Linked DNA regions of Homo sapiens. The protein of the gene in region 1 interacts with the protein of each later gene in a pairwise test. Each region holds a gene or a part of one and is shown on either strand. Other genes may lie near its edges.

The links. The genes of interacting proteins can lie anywhere in the genome.
Region 2: the proteins of PACRG (region 1) and MEIG1 interact in binary tests that used the Homo sapiens proteins (3 or more experiments, as listed by UniProt).

Annotation. Positions count from the first base shown.
Region 1 is NC_000006.12:163,059,853-163,063,605, reverse strand, and holds part of PACRG (parkin coregulated gene protein), read right to left. Parts: intron 1,457-3,753; coding exon 1,285-1,456; intron 1-1,284. UniProt on the Homo sapiens protein: Microtubule inner protein (MIP) part of the dynein-decorated doublet microtubules (DMTs) in cilia axoneme, which is required for motile cilia beating. Suppresses cell death induced by accumulation of unfolded Pael receptor (Pael-R, a substrate of Parkin).
Region 2 is NC_000010.11:14,969,296-14,973,048, reverse strand, and holds the end of MEIG1 (meiosis expressed gene 1 protein homolog), read right to left. Parts: intron 537-3,753; coding exon 408-536; 3' UTR 192-407; downstream 1-191. UniProt on the Homo sapiens protein: Essential for spermiogenesis.

The DNA of each region.
Region 1 (3,753 bases):
AAATCTAGCATTTTGATCATGATACATTTGAATGAATGGATAAATTCGAATGAATGAATAAAAATGGTGACCTTGGATACGATTAAATAATCCAGACTCTGGGAGATGACCCTATGTTGAGCTAGTTTGTTCTTGTTCTGATGAAAGCACACGGCAAGAGCTCACCTGAGCCAGTGAGGGTGGGGTTCCCCAACCTAGAAGACTAGCTAAGCGTCCTGTCAATCATTTTGGGAAGCTGCCCATCCTGGAGTGGAAGATGAGGTAGAACTTGGGGCGGGGGGAGCAGGGGCCTCCTCACCCCTCGAAGCCATGGGCAGTTGGGCCTGGATCCAGGGGGTGAAAGTGCCTGGAGCAGCTCTGGCTGAGAAAAAGGTAGGGTCTCCCTCATCTGCAGAATGAGTGTTCAGAGGAGGCACTGATCCTCTGCTTTTAATTAGTAGTAGCAGTAGCAGCAGTAGCAATGCAGGACAGGTGGGCAATTCTGGGGCTGGGGAGGGGATGTGCTGGTGAGGGTGAGAGGGGCCAGCCCTGCCACCTTGACTTGAGGAGAGGCCATCCTCTTCCTGAGCCTGTACCAGTGGATGCCAGGCATGCCCATCAGGGTGGCTCTACTGGCAGCAAGGTAAGAATGGCCAGAGAGTGTTCTGGAACCCCAGAAGGCTGTCACGTGGGACAACCTCAGGTTCTTAGACAACCAGTCCAAGGGGCCGTGCAATGTTGTGAGCAAGGTGCATGCAGAAAGGAAGGACAATCTCATTTCACAGACAAAGCCAATCACAGGGCTACCCCAGAGTCACCCAGCTTACCTATTGTAGATTAAAAGTTTCAGGTATTTAAAAACATTCTTCTTTTCACCTATGCAGCTGGGCTTCCCTTCCTTAAAATTATGAATGGTACTACCTCAAATATACTCAACATAACGGTGTTTATAATTTAAAAATTAGAGATGCCATTTACAAAAAAAAGACTTGGAAGTTAGCAGCAGCAGGTAAAGACCTCTGGATGCGTAAGTTAATGTTAATGCTTATGTCATTACTGTGAGGCATTTTAAATTAGCACAAACCCCATGGAATTTGGTTTATTTATGTGGCTAAGCCATAGTGAAATATTGATGATGGGATATATTTTTGGAGATTTGGGTTGTCTGGCCTCCTAAGTCAATTTATGAAAATTCCTGCAAAACTGGGGATCACCTCAGTCTGTCATGGTTTATTGCTTAATTAGCAAGTTGTCAAAAAGCAACACCGTATAAACTGAGTGATGCTTTTTCACCGGTTCACTTACTTTTTATCGGGATAATGAGCTGTGGAAGGACAGGTAGGATCTTGTTCCCACCGTGTTCCAGCATGTCGTGGATTCCTTGCCGAGCAAAAAACTCATAGGGAAATGTCATTTCACAAAGCCCATCAAAAAACAGAGGCAGATAATGATGGTAATCCAGCTTCTCAATTTCTACCTGAAAGTAAAGAAAGAAGAGACGCCATGTGAAAACAGCATTCGGGCAGAGCACGGCAGACAAGCTATGCAGCTGTCACCCACTCCAGAGGGGCACGCTCTTTAGAACTTCAGGAAGACTTCCTTAACCCATCCCCCTAATGACCTGAAGTATGTCATCATGTCCTGAATCAATGAGCAATGAGGTTAAAATCATGGACCTTTAGACCTTAACAGTTAAATCTCCCATCCACATACAATGCACATTGACAGCATATTAATAATTTGCTACCTTTTTGTTAATTCGTTACCATTTGGCTCAAGTATGATATTGAATAGGATTCAAGAAGCCTCTAGAATGTTTGCTGAAAAGATCCACGTAAAAATAAAATGAAAGAAATAAAAACAGCTGAAAAAGATTGGTGCCCAAGGTTCTAAGAAGAAAGCTACAGAAGTGCATGTTCATACGTTCCTGGGAGGCATATGCCTTCTTTGGGGCAAACAGGAGAGTGAGAGGTCAAGCATGATTCCTGGCTTGTTCACTGGAGCCTGGATGACAGGTAGAACATTCAGGGCATCAAGAAGAAATGGAGAGGACAAAGAGTGGGCTGAACCTGGGACCACTGACACCTCAAAGTCAAAACATCCCAACCTCCCTTTGCCTGCTTCTTCTGGGAGCGGAGACAAATCTCTTTCCCACATCTCCACCCATCACCCTCAGTGTCCCTCCATGTCCCCTGTCCAGACCTTGGCAGTAGCATCCAGCAGCACCAGGGAATGGGAACTAAAACTCTGGGGTTGAGAAAAGAGATTGTGAGTTGGGAATCATCTACCTGTAGAAGATTTGGTCTTGCTTGAGCCCTCCACTGTCCAGGGTACCTGTGGCCTGAGCTACTGCCAGCAAGGCGGCAGAGCTGAAGGTGAGAGTGTACATGGAAATGAGCCCACAGACTCAGACTGCAGGTATAATACATCTACACAGAGCAAGGGATGGGGCCTTCCCAGCAAGAGGTGATAATTTCCTTGGTTTTCAAATCCTTATGAATGCACCCAGCTTCTAGTTACCACCTTCTAATCAAGTGAGGAGCCCATCAAGACCTTTGAGAAACTCCCTTTTACATTAGTAGGAGATTAACAAATTTTTTATTGATAAATTACATATATACATATTCCCTATGTAGAGACAAATTATACATATATTTATTCCCTATATATAGTCCATACATTATATATATATTAATATATATTTATGGGATAAAAAGTGATATTCTGATTTTGTAACCGAAAATTGTAATACCACTTAGTGGGAGATTTTTGTACCTTCCAGCTCTCTCTCAGCATTCTGGAGTTTCACGCCACATGCCTGCCTACCCCTGGATGTGAGTAACTCGTAATGAACCCATCATCTTCCTGAGTGTTTACTGTGGGTTGGGGTGAATCAAATTTCCTACAGTTCCCCAAGCAGCAGGCCTGTCTACAGTCTGCTCACAGACTTCCCATTTACAATGCATGTTCAGGTAGAAGCTGGGGATGTAGAGGGAGTCCAGCCAATCAAGGAAGTAAGCAGGGAAGAGGCAATGTCCAGATCCTCTGTTGGAACTGGAGCATAGAAAACAAATCCCTAATGTAGGTTTATACAGACATCAGTTTTACTTTACTTTCCTTTTATATTTATAAAATTTATGTTATTCAGCATACATTTATGGAATATATATTTTCTCAGAGATTTATGTGCATTTGGAAATGTTTTAAAACATTATTTTGTACAATTTGAAATAATTATTTTTTCTTAGGTCCTAAAGGCCCAATGTTTTTATGGATAATTTTACATTGTATACTAATTTCATAATAAAAATGTCATCTATACTATATTTTTAAAACATTTTTGGTATGTTTTGCTAATTCTTTTAGCTTATTGTCACACTTTTACAAGTGTTTCTTGTAAGCACAAAATTAAATTTTGTATTTTACTATGGCCTAAGATGTTGTATTTTAATACATTAAGTCATTGACATTTATGGTCTCATTTAACTTCTGTCATCTTATTTTTTGGTCTTCGGTTGTTGTTTTTTATTTACTTTTTTCTTTGTATTTTGTAGTTTTGTTATGTACACTATGTTCTATTTACTTTTTTGTAATGACTTTAAGCTAAGACATCCTGTTCAAACATTTTATTGCAGCTACCTTAAACATTTCCAAACTTAAATTTATCTTAGTGAGAGATAAATAAAGTTAAAAGTCTTCTACTAAGACTGTTGACATGTCTATTTTTCCTTGGAATTCTATTTTTTCTTTATATGTTTTGGGGCAATAATACTA
Region 2 (3,753 bases), on another chromosome or scaffold:
ATTAAATATATAAAAATTAGATGGGTATGGTAGTGCACACCTGTAATTCTAGCTACTTGGGAGGCTGAGGCATGAGAATCACTTGAACCCGGGAGGCAGAGGTTGCAGTGAATCGAGATTGCACCACTGCACTCCAGCCTGGGCGACAGAGCGAGACTCTGTCTCAAAATAAAATAAAATGGACAAAAAGAGCAGGACCAAGAAAGTACAACTTTAATGCATCTGCAGCCAGTTCTTAGAACAGGACAAGGTGATTAGCAGATACCAATTCTCATGGCTTTTGTGTTTCACAAAACATTAAACTGCAGACTGCATCTTGAATTATTTCATCAAATGACAAACACATGATGTAGAAGGAAATGATGAATACTTAAAATATAATTGACAAGTAATACAAAGAAGACAGGCTAGTAAGCATAAATTTTCACTTTGTGGACTTCTTTGTCATCACATTCCCTCTGTTTGTTGTAGTAATAGAACGTATTGTCCCTTCTCTGAAGTTTCTTCACATATCCTGTCTCCGGCCAACGATCTACCTGCACATCAAGAACCAGAGTACAAACGTTACAATGGAGGGTTGATTTTTATCTCATATTTTACTATCAAATAGTTAAAAAGTATGACTTACAGAAACAAAGTATAAGATTAGATTTTAGAATGCTTGAGCTTTTAAAGTATGATACCCACAAGACACATCTTACATTGCAGCCTTATGCTGTAAGATAACTAATTCAGGCCGAGTGCAGTAGCTCATGCCTGTAATCCCAGCACTCTGGGAGGCTGAGGCAGGTGGATCAATTGAGGTCAGGAGTTCAAGACCAACCTGGCCAACATGGTGAAACAATGCCTCTACTAAAAATACAAAAATTAGCTGGGTGTGGTGGTAGGTGCCTATAATCCCAGGTACTCAGGGGGCTGAGGCAGAAGAATCCATTGAACTCTGGAGGCAGGGGTTGCAGTGACTCTAGATGGCGCCACTGCACTCCAGCCTGGGTGACAGAACAAGACCCTGCCTCGGAAAAAAAAAAAAAAGACAACTAATTCAGTGCTTTTCTCTAGAGCCCAATTTCTAGGTTTATTTTATTTTGTTTTATTTTGGAGACAGAGTCTTGCTACATTGCCCAAGCTGTCCTGGAACTGCTGTAGTCAAGTGATCCTCCCAGCTCGGCCTCCCAAGTGCTGGAATTACAGGCCTGAGCCACTGCACCCAGCTCCAATTTCTAGATTTAAATTTCAATACTGTGGCCAAGATAAGACAAAACATTCCAAGTAATCTAAACTTCATTTCTCTTATGTTTACAAAAGATTTTAAACATTCTAACTTCTAAAATTAATACCACAGGAGGAAATTAGGGCTAAGCCCAGGCTCCATTTTGTAAGTGCTGCCTGCTGATTGTTGATGAATACACAGTGAATAAAGCAAGCAACTCAAGAACTATCCAAAAGTGTATATGCATTTCCTTCTGCCCCAATTTCAAGTTCACCTTGAAATCCATTTTTTTTTTTGAAACAGGGTCTCACTCTGTCTCCGAGGCTGTAGTGCGGTGTTGTGATCATAGCTCACTACAGCCTCAACCTCCTGGGCTCAGGGGATCCTCCAGCCTCTGCCTCCCGAGTAGTTAGAACTACAGGTAAGCACCACCATGCCCAGATAAGTTTTCTATTTTTCTTTTTTTTTTTTGTAGAGACAGGGTCTCACTATGTTGCCCAGGCTGGTCTCAAACTCCTGGCCTAAAGCAGTCCTCCTACCTTGGCTTCCCAAAGTGTCAAAAATCTTTTTTTTAATTTCTTCTACCATTCTTTATTGTTGTTATTATTATTATTATTATTATCATTATTATTATATGTTGCCGAGGTTGGTCTCAAACTCCTGGTCTCAAATGATCCTCCTGTCTTGGCTTTCCAAAGTGTTGGGATTGCAGGTGTGAGCCACTGTCCCCAGTCATCTCCTACCATTCCTTCTTGTATACCATATTGGTTTATCTACTTTTTCATTTGGCTTGATCTAATTTGGAGATCTGTCTCTCCACTTCCTCTTCAATGTTATCCCTTCCTGGCCAGGTTAATGTATTTCACCACTGTCAAATATGTTCCTTTCAGATTTTGTGAGATGCACTTTATCATAACCAAAAACTCATTATCTAGGTTGTAGAAAACCAAATCCTGCTCTTCAACACCATCTATACAGGCAGTCCTGCACCCTTTCTCCAAATCCTGTTCTTCAACACCTTCTATACAGGTAGTCCTGCACCTTTTCTGTTCCCCATGAATAAATCTCAGCTTTCAGTAGGAAGAGGAGATGAATATACCATCTGTGTCCACATGTCTTTTACTTTCTAATAACACATCTTCATTTTTTGTGTCATCTCATTTACTTATGAATTAGCGAGAATAGGTAACAGCATATCTGAGAAGCCTTGGCAGGCCTTCTGACATACATTACAGAAAACCAGCAGTCCTTTCCACCACTGAGGCCACACCTGCCTGTGTGGCTTCCAATACCTTTGGCAGGGAAAGGAGGTGTTCTCAAGACTCCATTACAGCCCTCTTCCCTCCTGGGGCCAGGAGCAGATTATCTGAAAGCCATCTGATCCGGTGAGAAAACAGTACAACCAATGCCTCTTCCGAACATCTGGAGCTGAGCTACTTGATATGGGACAATCCTTAGGACAGCTAAGTTGCTCCTTTGCTTGTTGACTTCTAGACATTTTTCCTTTTGATGTCCCTTGGCATCTCTGAACTTTCTTTTCTTCTTGACTTTCAACTTGATCATTTCCATTTGATCTGGGAAACTTTCTTGCCTGTGGTGGAATGGAATGAGATCCTCAAGTTCAAGGACTTTCCCCTCAGGAGGGAAGGTCAGCAAGCACTATACCACCAGGTAATGAAAAACAGCTTCTCTCAAACCTCAAACCACTGCACACTGGGAGAAACATCCCACCCAAAGCAAGCCTTCAGTCACCATCCTATCCGTCCCTGAAGACCCACTGCAAATGCCACTGGGGACACTAAGCCCTCTCTGGGGATTGTCCCTGGAAGGAAGTGATTTTGTTTTCCTCTAAATCCCTGTGCTTCTTTTTGTTAAGGAACATATACTTCGATTTGTGTAAGGTTTTATTGTTCTTGTTACTTATTTTAGAATCTAAGATGATGAGATTAATAAAAGGTATCATTTACTAAACACTTGCTGTTCCTTCAGTCAACAAATTTTTTGTGGGGGAGTCTCGCTCTGTCGCCCAGGCTGGAGTGCAGTGGCATGATCTCAGCTTACTGTAACCTCCCCCTCCCGGGTTCAAGTGATTCTCCTGCCTCAGCCTCCCTAGTAGCTGGGATTACATGTGTGCACCACCATGCCCGGCTAATTTTGTGTATTTTTAGTAGAGACAGGGTTTCACCATGTTGGCCAGGCTGGTCTCTAACTCCTGACTGCAGGTGAACGGCCCGCCTCTGCCTCCCAAAGTGCTAGGATTACAGGCGTGAGCCACTGTGCCCAGCCCAACAAATTATGAGCACTATAATGTCAGGCACTTCAAACATGTGATTACATTTAATTCTTGTGACAACTTTCTTTTCTTTTTTCCTTTTTTCTTTTTTTTTTTTTGAGACAGGGTCTTGCTCTCTCACCCAGGCTGGTGTGCAGTGATGTGATCACAGGTCACTGCAGCCTCGATCTCCTGCACTCAAGCAATCCTCCCACCTGAGCCTCCCAGTAGCTGGGACTACAGAGACACTCCACCATGCCTGGCTAATTAA